Regions from separate parts of the Homo sapiens genome. Here region 1 is linked to region 2. The links come from fine-mapping of genetic effects on gene expression. A gene starts in region 2. The other region holds a variant in brackets. All regions are shown on one strand. Distances are between the middles of the regions. Region 1 holds the start of BAG3 (BAG cochaperone 3). Region 2 holds the start of GRK5-IT1 (GRK5 intronic transcript 1).

Region 1 (9,711 bases), 450 kb after region 2:
CAACTGTACAGTAATCTGAAGTATGTAACCTGATGTTACATTTCTCTCAATCATTTCTCTCTTTCTTTCTCTCTCTTTCTTTTAAAGAGATAGGGTCTTGCTCTGTCGCTTAGGTTGGCATGAAGAGCAAAATCATAGCTCATGGCAGCTTCAAACTCCTGGGCTCAAATGAGCCTCCCACCTCAGCCTCCTGAGTAGCTGGGACTACAGGCATAAGCCACTGCACCTGGCTTATTTTTTGTTTATGCAGAGATGGGGGTCTTACTGTGTTGTCCAGGCTGGTCTCAAACTCCTGGACTCAAGAGGTCCTCCAGTCTTGACTTTCCAAAGTGCTGGCATTATAGGCATGAGCCATGGTGGCAAGCCCTCATCAGTTATTTTTCTATGATTCTGTCTCTCTGTCCCCTCCTTACAAGGAAAGTAATTTTGAAACAACCAATCCAGTCTTGGTTCTTTGTTTCTGCTTTCTTCAGCCCTTCTCTGTCTATAAAACCAACCTCTTCTGCTCAGCTCATGGGAGCACTTATTCTAATTTAATGGAGATGTTGCCCAATTTCTAGAATCACAAATAAGATCTTTAACAATAAAAGTTAAAAAATGAAAATCAACAACAACAACAACAAAAAAGATCTTTAAATGTGTTGTAATTTTCTCCTTTGACAGGTTACAAGTGCAATTGAATAAACCAAACAAAAAATGTCATGGTTATTCGGTCTTTACTTCCCAAATCAGGGTCAAGATATAAGATAGCAAGAACCAATCTCTACCATAAAAAAGATCCAGACCCAAGAAAATGTGATTTATCTTTAAAGCTGCAACGAAACTTTCTTTTTAGTCTAGGAGACTAAAAGCCATCAGTTGATACAATCTCTTTTTTTCTTGAAGTTTCCAAAGGAAGGCAGGTGAGTTTGCACTGACTTCCATTTTCTCCCTGGCTTCCTTCCGGTGTCAGATGAGAGTCCCCGCGCTCCTCCCGGACAGCCCTCAGGGTCCTCGGCTATCATATATGGGGGAGGGGGTGGAGGTGGGCGAGATGGTTTTGTTTGTACAGGAAGGACGGGCGGCAGGCACGGGGAGCACGGGCTCCGGCCCCGGGAACACTCACTCGGCGCAAAGGAGAGGGAGAGAGCGACTATGAAAGCCGAAACCCGCCCGGGGCGCACGGAGGACGGCCCCAGTCCAGCTCGTCCGGCTTCCCACCCGCAGGCGGACCCCGAAGCCGCGCCCGCGCCCGCCCGCGGCGACTCCGGCCCGGGCACGCGCACGAGTCGGAAGGGGGAGGGGCGGGAGGAGGTGGGGGAGGGGCGAGCGGGCCGAGGCCCCGCCCCCGCTCCTCTGCCCCGCCCGCCGCGATTATAGCCGATGACTCAGGGCGGAGCTCCGCATCCAACCCCGGGCCGCGGCCAACTTCTCTGGACTGGACCAGAAGTTTCTAGCCGGCCAGTTGCTACCTCCCTTTATCTCCTCCTTCCCCTCTGGCAGCGAGGAGGCTATTTCCAGACACTTCCACCCCTCTCTGGCCACGTCACCCCCGCCTTTAATTCATAAAGGTGCCCGGCGCCGGCTTCCCGGACACGTCGGCGGCGGAGAGGGGCCCACGGCGGCGGCCCGGCCAGAGACTCGGCGCCCGGAGCCAGCGCCCCGCACCCGCGCCCCAGCGGGCAGACCCCAACCCAGCATGAGCGCCGCCACCCACTCGCCCATGATGCAGGTGGCGTCCGGCAACGGTGACCGCGACCCTTTGCCCCCCGGATGGGAGATCAAGATCGACCCGCAGACCGGCTGGCCCTTCTTCGTGGACCACAACAGCCGCACCACTACGTGGAACGACCCGCGCGTGCCCTCTGAGGGCCCCAAGGTGAGCCGGGCCCGCGGCCCGCCCTGGTCGGTGGCGCCACCTCGACGGCAGGCGGCGGGGAGTGGGCTGGGCCGGGGGGACGCGAGGCGGCGGGGCCCGGGGGTCGGCGAAGGCCCCTCGCGGGCGGACACCGGCTCCGCGCCCCGCCACACACTCCCGCTGCGCCCGGACGAGTCCCCGCTCCGGACCCGCCCTTGACAGGCGTCGGGGCGAAAGGAGGCCCCGGGATTCGGTGGCCCGGGAAGCGACCCCGCAGTGGCTCCGGTGCCGTCCACGGCTCGACTCCAGGGCGGAAGGCCGGGTGTCCAGCGCTGGCCTCGCGCTCTAGGGCTGGGAGAGGGGCGGCCGGCCTGGTCAGCTCCGGAGGCCCCGGCCCACCGTGGCCCCTGCTGCCCGCTCGGCCTCCGGGCCCGGGACCCGCGGCGCACCCTGCTGACCGCGGACTCGAGGGGGACACTCGCAAGCTTGGATGGTGGTTTTGGGGGGAATTTTACCGCTCAAGTTCTCCAACTTGGTTGAGGGGTATCTTGGCTACTGTCCCATGTTAGGCACCCAATGACTCTGGAGGCTGGTGTCAAAACATTCATATATATATGTGTGTGTGTGTATTTTAAATTAAAATTGTATTATTGTTTGAAAGTGCTTTCAATATGAACGTATCCTAGTATGATTTGTAAAATAAAAAACAGGGTGTGCTTCTCCCCAGCAGTTTCTAGAGATCTAGACTAGAGATCTGAGACTGTCTTACAGTTGGCCATTGCCTTACCACATTGCCTCACACTGGAGAGAAAGAGAATGATACGTGTATATTTATAATGGCATTCGCTTCCTGCCTTGTTATGGTATTAAAATACTTAGGATTTGTTACCAGTACACAAATAACTGACTAATGATACTCTTGTGAATACAGCAGAAGTATGTCTCATTTACATACATGCAAGGATATATACTTCTTAATCCCCAAGAGCATGAAATTTGAAAATGTAAATTTGGAATGAGTGTGTTAATTTTCAAAAATCAGAGTTAGTTATACTATTCTTTCAATTTTTTATAAATTTGAGCTTTCAGGATAAAAAGTTTTTAAAATAAATATGTTATACTTAAAGCTGAATTGTTAACGCCGTCTGGGCAAGATAAAAGCAGCAAAGAGCTGGTAAATTATTTTGAAGATTTAAAAACTCACCAAATTAAAACTGCTGTGTAACCCATTGTTTTAGAAGAAAGACCTGTATTATTTCCCTTCATCTTTATGCACTTTTTGTTTTAACAATATTGATAAAACTCCGGTGCCCAGCAGTGAGACCGTGTACAGGCAGCAGTTTACATTTACGAGAGATTAGTTGTATATTTATTCTTGAAAATTAGTACAAGAGGCTGTAATTAGCTGGGATGGGCACAGTTACATATACCTTTTTGTGTGTCTGTTCCACCCATTTTTGGGTGAAACTGACACTCATTTCAAACCACCTTTCTTAGGAGTCTGCGTGGATGTACATGATCTTTAGTGTGGTTTACAACTATTATTTTGAAGCCTTCTTCCTGTAGACATAGGGATAGTGGTATCTGTTGGCAGCCTTTGTTGTGAGTGAAGATCAAGTTTGAACATAAACATTCCCAGCACTTTGTTCTCAGCATGAAACTTACCCAGCAAGTTGAGATCTTCCTGTACCCACCTGGTGCATGGGTTAGGCTGTGATTTCATAAACCTTATTAAAAGAAAAAAAGCAGGTTTAGTTACCATTATTCTTGTCAGCAAATACAAAGAACTACTAAATCAGAAGTCTGATGCTGGGAAGATTTATTTGAAAATTTCACGGTCAAAATTTTAAAGTTGAAATGTCCTTGAAGATCTCTTATGTTAGGCTTCTTTATTTTCTGAAACCCAGAGAGTTCAGGTGTGACTTTGAAGGTCATCCAGCTAGTACCAACAACAGGGAGAGAACTAGTGTCAGGAAAGTCCTAATAAGAGGCAGTGTGTCTCTTCAGAAGTTGGAAGTGAGTGTTTTGGGAAACTGAGGCATGCAGGCTAGAATACTTGATTATTTTTGTGCCCTCCTGGCCACCAAGTTATTGGGTCACTGACCTCTGTGCTGAGGTTGCTTGGATTTTGATGATGGGACTGATGAACTCAAGAAAAGAGTTCCCTTTACCAAGTGAATGACTTGAGACTTGTCAGCATGGCACCAAAACTTAAGGAGAAAACTAACATTCAGCCCATGAGCTGTTTGTGCTTCATTGCTTTCAATCCTGTGCTTTGACACACACAATATCAGGTTGCACTTGTGTGAGTTACACCTTACTGGAGACTAAATGTAGTGGAAAATCCTTGAATATCATTTTGTATTTGAAATTGGCTTCTCAATGCATAATGAGAAAAAGGCCCTTGCAGAAAACAAAGGGCGATTTTGGAGGAGCTGAGCTGAGGCCCGTCTGAGC[A/G]TCATCATCTTCAAGAGGAAATGCTGTCAATCAGTAAAAAGCTGTTCATTGAGCATGAGGAGCTCAAGAGACGACCTCTCTTTTGGGGGAGGACTCAGCTTCAGGATGTTTAAAATTTAATCACGTTAGTAAGAAAATGGAAAGAAAAGACTAGACCTTTGTATTTTATTTCGTCTTCTACTGCCGTCTTGCAGTTGATCTTCCGCCTTCTCCTGAAGTAGTTAGGACAACTCCCTGTTTTCACAGAGGGGCAGAGCGAAAGCAAGTATCTTCTGTCATTGCTGAAGCAGGACGGCTCCCGGCAAAGATGCTGGGCTTCATCCAGCCCCATTCTAAGCAGCTGGGCCTCCCCACCTGCAGTCTTCCTGGATTTTGATTTTCTGCACACTTGGGCTTCCCACTAATTTGGCAAGTTCATACCAGTCCAGGCCCTTTCCTGGCAGAGGATGGCATTCAGTGCTGGTGCAGCCACTCCTCCAGGCTCCTCCCTGAATAAACAGAGGCCGGATGTTCTGGAGTGCTGTTCCCGCCAGGCCTCCTTGGGATGAGAGGGAGACCTTCCTCCCTCATGGAGCAGGGCCGCTCTAGCTCCATGGATCTTGGGGGTTACCAGTCTGGCACTCTCCAGGGAGTCCTGTTAAGAACACAGATTGTGGCTGTGTCTCATCGCCTCCCTGCCCCAACCCCATGTTCAAATCTGAATTGCTCAGTGTAGGGCCCAGAAAACTATTAAGTCCAGAAAGCTTTTTTGGTGGTTCTGATTCTGCTGCACTGGCAGTGGGAGCCACGGATGGCCAGTGATCCCATTTTGGGGAGGAGGAGCTGCGGCTTAGTGCCTCCTGAACATCTATCCTGCAGAGCATTTTCCCAAGCCTCCATTTTCCTTCTTGGGGAAACTCCCCAGGTACGCGGGCTTCTGGAGGTGTGAATATGGGGATGACATGGGAAGCGAGCCGAGACAGCACCTTGCAAAGTCTGGCAGGGTGGCTGGCAGTGCGAGAGTGGGGAGGTGGTCCAGAGATCTTCCTGGACCCCAGGAAGAAGCAAGCCAGAGCCTTTTCTTTTTGTCTTGCCCATCTGGCAGAATCTCACCATAATCATTTAACAGATTATACTCAGGCACTGTGACAGGGAGATAGAAACATCCTTTCAGATAACACTGGAAATGTTTCGAGTTATGATTGAAGTAGAGAGACCCATTTATTTTGCTTAAGGTTCAGCAGAGCCTCCTGAATTTTCTTAAAGATGAGATCGTTTTGCTCTTTCCAGATCTATTGCAAGCTGTTATGCCTCTTAGCAGAGGCGGAGCACAATCAGGAAATGAGTGGCCGTTCTCTCCTTCGTATTTCCAGCAAGTTGCAGTTGTGGCTGAGCAAGTTCCTGTGCGACTGCATGAAAGTGATTTGTTGGGGGGCAGATGAACAGCATGGCCAGATGCCTTGGAGCCCAGCTCATCCAGGACTTTCATTTTCCCCTCTGAAGAACAGCCTGTGTTGTTCACATGAGAACCGACTGCACCTCCGAGAACATCATTTGTCCCGTTTTGTAGGGTAGATTTGCCCTTTATGAGGGTGGAGCCTGTACACAGGACCTGCGGCAGCGTTTGACGTTGGCCAGGGCTGGGAAGGCTTAACTGTTGGATGCTATCAGGGCTGCTTGTGAGTCAGAAAGCTTCATACCACCCATGAGGCTTGCTTAGTGCTGTCCTCGTTTCTGGAATGACACACAGTCACCTTATATAAACCACTCTACATGTTTATTACTTTCTATTGACATTTAAAAATGATGTTCTGATGTTTATCATCCAAAGTAGAAAACCATTCATCATCCAGACCTACTCTTTCTCCTTTAAGTTTTGCTGTTTTAATATTGCTCTTAAATGTTTAAGAGAGCTTACAGAAGAAACTGAAGACAAAGGCCTTGCTTATTAGGATCTTTGAGACCCTCTGGCACTGGCGAACACGAGTGAACCCTGTGTCACACTTGACCGTGTTATTCTCCAGCCCCTCCTGGGTTCCCTTTTGTTGTGAGTCAAGTAGACACCTCTGATCTGCTTCTGCCTCAGAGCATAGACTCAGCTGGCCTTCTTTTTTTTTTTTTTTTTTTTGAGACGGAGTCGCACTTTGTCTCCCAGGCTGGGGTGCCGTAGTGCGATCTTGGCTCACTGCAACCTCCGTCTCCTGGGTTCAAGCGATTCTCCTGCCTCAGCCTCCCAAGTAGCTAGGATTATAGGTGAGCGCCACCATGCCCATCAGCCGGCCGTCTGAGGCAGGCTCCAGAGCCCCTTGTTTTGCAGGTGCAGGATTCATCTGTATGCATCATGTGGCACATGTGATACCATGTGAGGTATCTGGTGTTACTAAGTCGTCACGTATTTCGATGAAGGTATCTTTGGGACCTTGGCAGCCTTTTAGGAAGCCAGGCAGCTTGCAAAAGCTTAGGAAGAATTTGGGGGGAGAGGAATGAATGTAGTATTTTTCTGTCTGTCAACACACACACATATATATATATATGTGCCAGATATGAGTGGGTGCTTTTGGTAACCTTATCTCTAAATCCTCACCAGCTCTTTGAACTAGAAACTATGAAGTGTCTTACACATGGGACAGCAGATTTGGAGAGGCAGTGTGCCTGGCCTGTGATAAACAGAAAGACTTCTGTGGCTTTACCCCCATCTGAGTTCCTGAAGGGGTGACAGACAGACTTGCCTTTAGCGGGCCTGGCTGCTTTATACTCCCCAGGCACGGCTGCTTTATACTCCCCAGGCACAGCTTGAGGTGATAAACAGCCCTGAGTCCATCTTTGTATAGTTAATCAGAAATGTTGGCCTGTTTCTTGAACCTGGGTCTGGATTTAGGAGATGGGCCCGACTCTTTACTCACTCCTTTACCCCATCTGAAATTCACTGAGTGCCCACAGTGTGCGAGTCACAGTGTTAAATGCCATATAGAGGACAAGTCTGCCCACTTTGAGACTGTTCTCCACAAAGCATGTCCTGCCTCTCCCTGGTCCGAAGCAGGCTGTCTCTCTTCTGGAACCCATATTATTTTAATTTGAATCTTTTTGCTTAAGCTCTGCACTTTTCTGCTTTGTCTTGGGGTCACACCCCTGTTAGGAGTTCTGGGGCAGAGTCTGTGTGCTTCATCGCTGCCTCTTGATGCCTGGCAGGGTCCACAGGCTCAGAAAAGATGGAACGAGTGACTGTGGAGAAGGGTAGAACATGGGCCTGCCCAGAGCGCGAAGGCAGATACAGAAGAGCTGCCCGTGAAGGATGCAGGTGTGTCCCGGGAAGCCTTCCATTGGTTCCTAAGAACTGCAGAGTTGTCCTGGGCTCCTAAAGGTCCCCAGAGGCCTGCTCCTTTTTGTCACTTTGTGAATGGCCTTCTCTGCACAAAGGACTTCAGTATTGATTCCCTAAGTTCATCCTTACAGGTCTGGAGAAGCTCTTTTTTGTTTCTCCCAATGACACAGCATCTTACAGCAGGGCTGGAGAGGCTGGGAGCTGGCAGCAGCCAGACCCTACTTCCATAGCTGTGCAGAGAGCAGCCCCTGGCACTGTGAAAAGAGTCTCTTAAAAATTTTTTTTCGTGTGGCTGGCAGCAAGATCAGACACCGTATACGTGAAGGTTCTTATTCACTGTCAATTCAGAAAAGCCTAGAATCGCAGAGTGCCAGCTCTGTGCGTCAGGAGCCTGTAAACAGCTCAGCTGTCCAAGAGCTCCCAGCACAGAGCTGTGCCCCAGTGAACTGGGGAGACTTTTTACGGAAAATTCCTTAGCATTCAATTGGAGAACAAACGTTTGCTGTTTTAAAGTATCTTCCTCAGTGTTTATTAAAGTAGAATTATATATTTTTTTCAGTTATTTAAAAAATTCTTCCTTGACATTGAATGAATGAATAAATGAATGGATGGTTTAAAAATTCATACAGTGGGAGGATGGGAAGGCCCCTTCATGTGCAGAAGAAAAGCCAGCCCCTTCGCTGGCCCACCCTTTCAGGGTCAGTTCAGACCCCCAGCATCCCAGCGGGGTTAGCACTCCTTCCTGGGTTGGACGGTGTCTTCCCCGGTTCTGACAGCGCTCCATGCCGGGCGTCCCTGCAGTCTTGGGGCTGTGGTGACTCAGAATTAAGCTGAGTGCTCTCACTCTCGTGTACCCTGCCTGGCTGGCCTGATGACTCAGCATGGAGCGCTGGCTCCCTGACCCAGAGCACACTTGAACTGAATGTTCCAGGTCTGAGCCTCAGCCGAGCGTGGCTGGGCGAAATGGAAGCCTTTCTCTCCTGCTGCCTCTCCTGCTGCATTTTACCCCGGGAGATGAAGGTTTTGGAGACGTTAGTGACACATGGATGTTATCACAGTGTACAGCTGTGACAGGAGTAGCAGAAAGGTTAGCATCTACCTGGCCTTACCATCAGACAAACCTGGGTTCTAGAGATCTTAGGCAAAGCACTTACCCTTCTTGAGCCTCAGTCTCCCGTTGTGTGAAGTGGGCATAGCAACACTTCTGTTAGCAGGGTTGGGAGAATCAAGGAAGATGGTGTGTGGGAGGCGAACGTCCCAAAGCCTGAACTGATGCATGCGTGGAACTCCCGGAAACATATGCAGCCTGCTCTGTGGAGTAGAAGTGTGTTTGTGGATAGGTGTGTGGCCTCTCCACACAGCAGACTGTCCTGGCTGTCCGTGGGCCTTTCAGCTCTCAGAGAGGCCTGGGGTCTTGTTTCTTAGAAGCAAGGCCTCCTCTTATCCCCCTTGTATGGAGTGTAGCTGACTCCCCCGACCAGTGTCCAGGTGGCCCTTGGAGCCCTCCCTGGGGCTTCCCGTGCCCCTTGTGAGTGGAGGATGTAAAGGAACAGTAACAGATGAAGCTGCGGGGCCTTCGGGAGCCTTGACCCAGCTGCCAGACCCTGCGCCATGCGTCCATAGATGCATCTCCCCATCCTCTGCCCAAGATAGGCTGGGTCCTTGTGTCCTCCACTGTGCTGTGTAGAGCGCTGGCTTTACTCAGCCTCAGCTCCTCAAGGGGAGGGTCTCCCTCAGCTGTGTCTGTGCAGCCGCAAAGTACCAGGCAGGAGCTAGGAGCGCTGCCTGTGAGGGGGGACATCAGCCCACCTTACTGAGGGGCCGATTACCTGCACAGCTCTTCTGGACCCAGCTCTCAGGGGTGTAAATGTCACCGCAGATGGAAGGAAGGAGGGGTTTTCCAAGTGCCACCACCCTCTTCTGGGGGGTGTGGCTGCTGTGGACCGAATGCTTGAGAAGCCACTGCAGGTGGGAGCAGAGCCCCCCCGGGACTCAGGGGTCTCACCGTCCATCAGAGAGGGTCCCCTTGCCTGCATGGCAGCTGATGAACTGAGGATGTTTTTCTTTTGGAAATTGTATTTTGTACAGAATACACGTCCGCTGATGTCCTGTACAC
Region 2 (9,711 bases):
AATATGAAGTCACTAGAAGAGCAATAGGCAGTTTACAACATGTTAAAACTTTTTCTTTTTTTTTTTGAAACAGAGTCTCGCTCTGTCGCCCAGGCTGGAGCACAGCGGCACCATCTCGGCTCACTGCAACTTCTGCCTCACGGGTTCAAGTGATTCTCGTGCCTCAGCCTTCTGAGTAGCTGGGACTACAGGCGCACGCTGCCATACCTGGTTAGTTTTTGTATTTTTAGAAGAGACGGGTCTCACCATGTTGGCCAGGCTGTTCTCGACCTCCTGACCTCAGGTAATCTGCCCACCTTGGCCTCCCAAAGTGCTGGGATTACAGACGTGAACCACTGTGCCCTGCCCATAGTAAAACTTTTAATGTCCAATTGATAACCACTGAGGTCCATTGATGAAGGGAATTCAGAGGGGAGGAAATGTTAACTGGAAACCTCAAGCCTCCAGATTTGCTTTCAGCTCACATTTCTCCTCTTTTGGTGCCTGAAATCACTTCTTCCCGTTTGCAAAGTCCTTTGTGTGTGTCTCCACAATGGCCCTTATTCCATTGTATGGAGGTTGTTTGCATCCGGTGTGTTTTCCTTCCCAGTGGCGAGCTCCCTGGGAAATTGCCTTGAACTCCCTGCAGGGCTGGACACAGAAAGGTAAACTCTGAAGGAGAAGAGGATAAATGAGAGAATGGAAGCTCTATCTGCAGCTGCTTCCTGAGGATTAAAAAGCTTTGAGTCAAGGAAAGGAATGGAAACTCCAGTTCCTGGACTATTCAGAAAGCCAATTTGATTATTCAGGCAAAAGGAATCTATATTTTAGAAGGCCGATAGGTTTGTGGCTTTCCAGCATAGTAGACTTCTATTTACAAGAACTCTGACCCAGCAGCTTTATTCATGGCAGATACAGGTGCTGAGAGAAGAATTTGAAGGTTCCCTGTTTCTTTTGCTTTTTTATTTTTTAGAGACAGTCTTACTCTGTTACCCAAGCTGGAGTGCAGTGGGGCGATCATAGCTCAGTGCCACCATACCTGGCTAATTTTTAGGTTTATTTCGTAGAGACAGGGTCTCGCTATGTTGCCTAGGTTGGTCTCGAACTCCTGGGCTCAAGCGATCTCCACCCCCCCATCCCCTGCACCCTTGCTTTAGCCTCTAAAAGTGCTGGGATTGTAGGCATGAGCCACTGCATCTGACTTCTTTTGCATTTTTGGCTCAGCTGCTCCTGAGTGGAGTCTGAAGCTGGCTGTCTTTGACATATTCCCATCCCTCCATCCTCACCCCCACTCCTCCATTTGGATTTCCCTTCTTGCTCTCAGCTGGCTGTCAATGATTCCCTACTTAGCTATTTATATTTAATAGCCTACTCTTCCTTGAATCAAACCCATTTTTCAAGAAGACCACGAGTTGTTAGTGCAGTTAATTGAAAGGAATAAAGCCATAATGGTGGAATTATAGATGAAAATGGAAAACCCCTTGAAATCTTAATGATTTAGTCAACTGGGTGCTTTGCCTTCTTATAATACAAGTTCATCCCGGCAGCCACACAGAACAGTTACTACCAAGCTGTGCTGGCTAGCTTGCGCAAGCCAGAAATTAAGTGCACCAACTCTGAGTCAGGCTGACAGGTTCAAATCCCGGGTCTTCTACTTATTACTTATGTGACCCTGGACAAATTATAAAACCTTTCTTTTTTTTTGAGGAAAAAAAAAAAGTCTCACTCTGTTGCCCAGGCTGGAGTGCAATGGCATGATCTTGGCTCACTGCAACCTCTGGCTCCCGGGTTCAAGTCATTCTCCTACCTCAGCCTCCCGAGTAGCTGGGATTACAAGGCACCTGCCACTACACCCAGCTAATTTTTGTATTTTTAGTAGAGACGGGGTTTTACCATGTTAGGCTGGTCTCGAACTCCTGACCTCAGGTGATCTGCCTGCCTTGGCCTCCCAAAGTGTTGGGATTACAGGCGTGAGCCACCGTGCCCGGCCTATAAAACCTTTCTTAACCTGGTGCTTTATCTATAAAATAGGCCTGTGTTCCCTACCTCATCTGGATATTGTGTTCAAGGAGATAATCCATTTAAAAGACCACAAGAGCCTGGCCCACAGTTGGTGTTGAGTAAATGCTAGCCATTATTGTTCCATTCTTGCATTGGAGTGTCTGAATTTCCTCATAGAGGCACAAAAACCTGATGTACAACCATGTATTTGTGTAGGCAGGATGCAACAGCTTGTAGTGGACAAAAAAATAGTCTAACACTAACTTGCTGAGTGACCATGCCAACTCACTTACTTTGGGTCTGTTTCACATCTGTAAAATGAGAGGGAGAGGCAGGGGTTCCCAGGATGGAAAACTTAAATGTCTATACAGGCCAGATAAATAAAATCACTAGTGACTTGGGCTGGGTATAAGACAATAGGGAGTTACGGTAAACTAGAAAGCTTTTCAACTCTGAGTGTGGTCTACTGACCACGAGGATCGACAGAGCCCTGGAGTTTGTTAGAAAGAGCAACATCTCAGAAACCACCCCAGATCTATCCAAATGCAATCTGCATTTTAACAAGATCCCCCGTGATTTGTATGCTCATGAAACTTTGAGCCAGGCATGGTGGCTTATGCCTGTAATTCCAGCACTTTGGGAGGCAGAGGCGGGTTGGATCACTTGAGTCCAGGAGTTCAAGACCAGCCTGGCCATTATGGCGAAACCCCGTCTCTACTCAAAATACAAAAATTAGCCAGTCATGGTGGCACACACCTGTAATCCCAGCTACTTGGGAGGCTGAAGTACAAGAATCATTTGAACCTGGGAGGCCGAGGTTGCAGTGAGCCGAGATTGGGCCACTGCACTCCAGCCTGGGTGACAGAGTAACTGTCTCAAAACAAAACAAAACAAAAAAACAAACAAAAACAACCTTTGAGAAAATTGTTTTTTTTTTTTTTTTTTTTTTTTGGTTCGGAGTCTCGCTCTGTCGCCCAGGCTGGAGTGCAGTGGCGCGATCTCGGCTCATTGCAACCTCCGTCTCCCGGGTTCACGCCATTCTCCTGCCTCAGCCTCCTGAATAGCTGGGACTACAGGAGCCCAACACCACGCCCGGCTATTTTTTTTTTGTATTTTTAGTAGAGACAGGGTTTCACTGTTAGCCAGGATGGTCTCGATCTCCTGACCTCGTGATCCTCCCGCCTCGGCCTCCCAAAGTGCTGGGATTACAGGCGTAAGCCACCGCGCCCGGCCCAAGAAAATTGTTAAGGTGCATAAGCCATCTAAAGGCATTCAAAAATTTTCTTTCTTTTTTTTTTTATGTTAGCCGAATAAACAAACTTCGGGCTTCATCAGGCCCTATGCTGCCAGCAAGTGACCAGCGTGGTTGGTGGAGGGCTCTAGGAGCTGCCAGCTTTAGGGGTCTCGCTGTCTGAGAGAGATCCTTTCATTAAAGGTTAGGGCTCTAGGCACGTGAATATGTAGCAAAGACCAAGCCTGGATTGCTTAGAACAGTAATTCCTGGAGTGGTAAGTGCCTGAAAAGTTACCCGCTGAGCCCTCCGCCTTCTGACAGGTAAACTGTTGTTGCCCCCATTTTGCAGACAAGATAAATGAGGCCCTGGGAGACTCACTGACCCAAGTCTAGACACCAGGAAGTGGTGGTGGTGGGTATACTCCCCCAGGAAAGCAGGTAATCTTGGGTTGTTACAATCAGTGACCAGACCAGTTTCCAAGGCCTGGAAGGTTTATTGATTTCTTTATATTCTCCAATGCATAATAACTGTTCTCTGTTTCTCTCGGCACCTCCCTGCGACTTCCTGGCAGCCCTGGGGACAGAGGGTTTCCTCCTTCTGGACAGAGAAGGCCCAGAGTCGGCTTCTGAACGGATATCCGGCCCGCAGGATGCAGAGGAGGCAAAGGCCTCATTGTTCTTTGGGGCCTGCCTGCCCCGCCCCCAGCTGTAGGACACTCGTGGCAGATCCCGGGTGACCGAAGACAGCCCATTTCCAGGAGTGGGGCCTTCGGAGCGGAGGGAGCAAGGAAACGGGGCTGAGCACAGACCTGGAGTCTGATGTTCTGAGCATAACACTGGAAGGAGCTAAGAGCCCCAAAATAAATAAGACCGGAATTTAAAAACGTTAATCCCACGCCGGCTTGGCGCTGGCCTGGCTGTTACTCATTAACGCTCCCCACGGCGGAGACTCCGGCGACTCCGTCTGCGTTTTTATTACTTAATCTGGCTGGGTTTGGCTGCAGGGAGGCTCGTGGATTTGCTGGCCGGGTGTGCTGGAAGGCAGTTTATTCACAGAATAAGCAGCTTCCCACGCTGGACCCTGAGCCCCAGGCGCCGTCCGCGTAGACCCCGCGCCGCGCACCGCGGCCGGCGGGGGGCGCTCGGGTCGCACCGAGAGCAGCGCGGGCAGCCAGCGCCGGGTCGCAGCCGACCCGCAGAGCCCTTCGCGCCCTCCGAGGAAACAAAGTGCATCTTTGTCCGCGGCCCGAGGCGCCGCGTGGGAGACGCTGGGCAGGGGCCAGGCCGGGCCGGCCGCCGCCGCGTGCGGGGACCCTGGGCGCGCGTCACTGACCCGGGACTCAGACCCTCGCGGGCCTGGCGCGGACCGGAGGAAGCGGGCTGTGGCGCGCGGCCGAGCTGGCAGCCCTCCCACTCCGAGCACGGCTCGGGACCCGCACTGGCTCCTGCCGGGCCGCGGCGCTTCACGCGCCGTCACCGGGGCCCGTGCACTCCGCTTTCCGGGCTGGCGACGGGGCGGGAAGGGGGCAAGCGGGAGCCTGCGGGGGGGTGCTGGGGACTTCGGCTTGGCTGGGCCGCCTTTGAGTCGCCTGTCGGCCGGGCGGTGCCCGCCTTCGCTTTCGGTGCCGTCCCGGGGCGGGTCCTCGCTCCGACAGCCGCGCGCCAGCCCAGCTCAGCCCCGGCGCCGCGCGGCCGGGAGGACTCCAGCTCCCAGCAGGCCCCGCGCCGCGAGCACCGAGGCAGGAGGCGCGCCTGGGCCGGCGCTTGCGCAGTGCGGCCGCCCGAGCCTGCTAGTACCACACCCCCGGGAGGGACTGAGGGGAGGCAGAAGCATCCGAGGCATTAAAGCATCCGAGGGAGCCGGAGGGGAGGAGAATGGAGTGACAGAGACACGCGGAGGGTGGGGGGTGGGGGGGAGCGTGTTGAGGGAGGGGGGAGGGGGGACACAGAGGGAGGAAGAAGCGGCGGCGGCGGCGGCGGCGGCGGCGGCTCCTCTTTGCAGAGGGGGAAACTCTTGGGCTGAGAGCAGGAATAATGCGGTAGGCAAGGCGGGCTGCTGGCTCCCCCGGCTCCGGCAGCAGCGGCGGCAGCCCGAGCAGCGGCAGCAGCAGCGGCAGCACCCCAGGCGCTGACAGCCCCGCCGGCCGGCTCCGTTGCTGACCGCCGACTGTCAATGGAGCTGGAAAACATCGTGGCCAACACGGTCTTGCTGAAAGCCAGGGAAGGTAAGAGGCAGGGCCGGTACGTGCCCGGCGCGTCCGCCGCGGGCCAGGGTGCGGGTGTCGGGTGGCGTGCGGGCTGGGGCTGCGCCCGTGCAGGATGCCCGCTGCCGGCGAGTGGGTCGCGAGCAGGACACTTCGGAGAGCGGCTCTGCAGACCCTTCAGGGTTCCTGCCTTGGGGCTCAGAGAATCTGGACTTGGGCTGAGAAGGTTGCAGGGATTTGGATGCTAACATATCTCCTAGTTTCCAGCGCTCGCCCTGCAGAGCGTGCCATCTCGGCAGCTGTTGAAAGGTCAGTTGGAAAAGCATTCATTCGGGGAGCGACGAGCAAACATGCACATAAAATAGCGTTTCAAGTCGGCCCGGGATGGTTCTGTGTGAACTGGTGTGTGTGTTCGAGGGGCGGGGGTGGAATGAGCAGAAGCCAAGTCTTTGCCTGCGCAGGCTGAGTTGATATAGACTATTGCTGGAAACCATCCGCTGGGATGTTTCTTAGGGAAATCCCGTCGTGTGGAAGGAAGCCTTTTAAAGGCAAAGTCAGATGTTGAGGAATTAGCCTTTTCATAGAATTATCAAAGGATGGCTGTACAGACCACCTAGAAAATAATTCAGTATTTCAGGTTTTTCTTTTCTGGGAGTGTGATAACTGAAATTGTTAGATTTTGGCTCAGTTAAGAAAAGAAAGGTAAGTGTGCTGGTGCTTTAGATACGTTTTCTATGCAAATCATTAGATTTCCTGCATTTAGCTGGCAGGAAATATTGTCTAAATGGAGTGTGTAAGATCCTGAGTCAAACCCTAAGAACGCATATTTTGACTCTTCCTTTTGATGAAAAACAGAAAAAAGGGGGGGGAGGCAGAAACTTGGGTGCTTCCTGAAATGATTGTGTTGTGTCCATGTAAACATATGTATTTAGGAATACCTGGAATTTATGTCGCATATTTTCCTTTTTTTTTTCTGGTCAAGATTTGAGCTCTAGTGTGCGACCTTTTTCATAAAAGGGGAAGAGGTTTTTCCCTTTCACGGGAGAACGCTTTATTTGATACAAGGTAGAAGGCAGACTGAGTAAGGGCTTGAGTTTAGAAGGATACTCGGTGAGCAGCCCATGAAAATGTCTTACCTGCTTAATATTTTCATTCACCTACTTTGATGAATGAAGGGAAGAATTTCTGGCCAGCAATAAAACGATTCGTGTTTATTCAGCCCGTTCCATCACCTTGTGGCTCCCTACACACTGTGGGGGTAGGTGATGCATAGCCTTCCGTGGGCAGCGTTTCAGCAACTCAACCCGGCATTCGTGTCTTACTTTCGTCGTCACTTGTCACTCTAAAGCAGCCAGTGGGCAAGAAGGTTTATTTCAGAAGCCCCGAAGGGAGGCAGTGCTTTGAAAACCCCAGCAGAGTTTAAAATATTCAGGTTAGTCTCCCTCCCATTGCTTAGCTTTGGTGGGAATAAATTTTTAGGAGAGGCTTGTTACTTGGTGACTTCAGGTTCTAAGGCCTGAGCTGTGTGTGTGTGTGTGGTTTTTTTTTTTTTTTTTTTTTTTTTTTCCTAACCTGACATTTTTAGTGGACAGGATCTAGGTGGGTGCTGGTAGGCTCTCCTCTGGGTTGGGGAATGGTCCTGAAAGGGAGGAAGCAGAGAAAACAGCCCTCCACCTCCCCCGCCCCTCTTTCAGCCTTTGCAGCTGGCCACCTAGTGGTGGGACACGGTTGTGTATCTCAGGATTCGGGGGCTGGGAAAGTTTTCACTCTCGCTCCATTCTGAAATTATTTCTTGGGAAATCACTGGGTCTGATGGTACTGGAGCCTTGCAAGTTTCGCTGGTTCCTCCTGTTGCCCAGGGAATCTGCCCCCGACATTTGCTGCTGTAGATATTTGTTTGCCTGATAGATGCTTTTTTTCTTCCCTGAGCATTTGGTTGCTTCTTTTATAATGCTTTGCTTAGAGTGGGCAAAGTGATATCAATTCCACCCGCCCCCTCCAAATTGTTCTCCCCAGTATTTTTTCACCAACGTGAATTTACTGTCTGATATTGTTGTTCGTTAGGCCAACAAATTGGGTTTTTTTCCCAGAGCCTTGGAGAAGAGAGCTGCAGGCTGGAAGCTTGTGTGGAGTGACCGACTCCCATTGGGGCAGAATTACAGTGATTGAAAGTGCTCAAGAATGTGCCTTTCACTTTTTTTTTTCCTTTTAAAGGCTTTTTCAATTTTGCTGTGAGAGTTTGGTCGTCATCTCATGGTGAGAAAATAGCTCTTGATGATGCCTTGGAAATGGAGAGGGCCTGCGGAAGCAGGGAGAGACTGACACGTGAACAAGAAAAATTAATCATTTAATGGAAACCTCATTTACAATTTGCATCTCTCCCCTTCTTTCTCTCTTATGCCTAGAGGAAAGCCATGATTTTAAGTGCTTCCAGTTTCTTTTGGCTGGGCCTTTATTAGAGACTTGAGCCCATATATCCTAATTAGTGTGGACACTTTTAGAAATTAAAGCAATTTATGTTTCTCTTCTCAGTTCTCATATATTTGAATTTATTTTACTAAACTTAGTAGTTCTCCAAATAACCATATTATCTAAATATTCAGAAATGAAATCTTCAGTCAGTTTAGTGAAATATCTAATATAAAACAGTATATTAAAAAAATCTGAGTTGTTTAAAAGGTTTAAAAACACTTCTTAAAGATTCTTGTCAGTGGTTACAGATGAGAAATATAATTGGCAAATGTGAAATTTAATTTAGTTCACTTAACAAAATACACCGTAAGCAATTTAAAATTTGGCTTTCAAGTAAAAGTCACATTTGTCCCAAACAATAGAGAAACAGACCTTGAAGAAAGACAGGCACACTTTGAAAATGCTGTAAAATAATTTGTAGTTGTCCATGTTGGTGGGTAACACTGGGACCTATCTTTTCTTTTTGTTTTGCATTAAAGACAGATGGCTCCTAAATTCACTGTATCTTCAAAGTCTTACCGTAATAAGACATAATATAAAGTGGAAAGCATTAATGTAGCAATAAAATAGAAAGCCTGTAAGTGGATTAGAGTAAAATGATGGATTGTTAGTAATTAGAAAATATAGCAAGCAAGCTTCATGAACACTTGTGATAATTATTTTAAAATAAGAAAAGGTAGAGGTATGGGTTCAAGATTTTGAACCACGGAAATGTATTTTGGGGCCTGTTTATTTGTCCTGGGTCTCATGAGAAAACATCAACTCGATCACTCTTAGGAACTTTAGATTGCTCTCCTAAAAAGTGCTTAAGGAAAAAAAGAAAGAAGTTGAGACTGAATTCATGGCAATTTATGGGAATGAGCTAAGTGATTAAGCATTTCATGAAAAAGAGGCCCAGACTAACTCTATCTATTTATTTACATTTCAGAATCTCAGAAAATTGGCAGGCGACCTAATGTTGAAATAATAATGAGAAGGAGAGTTTGCTGAGTGCCTTTTGTGTGTTTCTTTTTGGTTTTATTGTTGCAGTAAAGGTTTTTGTGTTTTTCTCATCTTCTAGATCTGTTGCCTTTCTTCTGAGTGAACAGTGGTGAGAAAAAATTTTGCAAGGCCCCGCTTTTCCTTTCTTCACAGGCCAGCAGTAGCCATATCTGATCAAAAAAGATACCTGAAGGAATATTGATCACATTTTCCTGAGGCCCTAGCAAGCACAGGAATTGAGAAGTTAGGACTGGAACAACTTTGTCATTTGTCACAATTGCCAAACATTAGAATACACAGGAACCGTTTTTTCAGGTAACTCTGTGACTTGGCTGGATCTTCCTGATCATCAAGATTAGCACCTCGGGGCCTGGAAGAGGTTAGGGAGGGCAGGAAGAAGGAGTGAGCCAGCATCCAGCTCTGCGTGGGGCAGGCTATGGCGTGGACAGACTTAACATTCCACAGCACGGCTGAAAGCCCTGGACCTCTTTCCCTTGCACCCCTAATTCATGGTGATAAAACCAAAACATGGTGAATTAGGTTATTAGAACGTTGGAACATCTCTGAAGCTCAAAGCCCTCTTATGGCTATGTGAAGGCATACGTGGAGGCATACGTACTCCACCCTGAAGCTTCTCCTTCAATTTTAATGTTAATCTTACCAAGCGACAGCTTTCATCCTGGTTAAGGCAGCTCGGTGTGTGTAAAAGCAGCCTGGCCTGTTAAACACAATGCCGTTAAATCAAACTGCCTTTCTTTTTTTTTTTTTAAAGTTTCCTTTTCAGTACTGACAACTTGGAGGTAGAGAAACCAAAAGCAATGTTTTCAGAAGGCCTTTTGCT

What was found. PIP is the estimated chance that this variant, and not a neighbour inherited with it, causes the effect.
Region 1: its variant is fine-mapped to the expression of GRK5-IT1 in tibial artery (GTEx, PIP 0.93).

Annotation. Positions count from the first base shown.
Region 1 is chr10:119,649,998-119,659,708 of GRCh38, forward strand. It overlaps BAG3 (BAG cochaperone 3), which reads left to right and starts at 1,383. Exons shown (of 4, transcript NM_004281.4): 1 at 1,383-1,858. The coding sequence starts at 1,679. RefSeq lists enhancers at 521-1,475, 856-935 and a silencer at 1,136-1,435. The variant A/G (reference allele first, on the strand shown) is at 4,295.
Region 2 is chr10:119,202,532-119,212,242 of GRCh38, forward strand. It overlaps GRK5-IT1 (GRK5 intronic transcript 1), which reads left to right and starts at 5,890. Exons shown (of 2, transcript NR_186528.1): 1 at 5,890-6,119; 2 at 8,950-9,711. It overlaps GRK5 (G protein-coupled receptor kinase 5), which reads left to right and starts at 5,040. Exons shown (of 16, transcript NM_005308.3): 1 at 5,040-5,438. The coding sequence starts at 5,387. RefSeq lists enhancers at 3,547-3,626, 3,737-3,786, 3,807-3,916 and silencers at 4,257-5,086, 5,297-5,366, 5,417-5,466.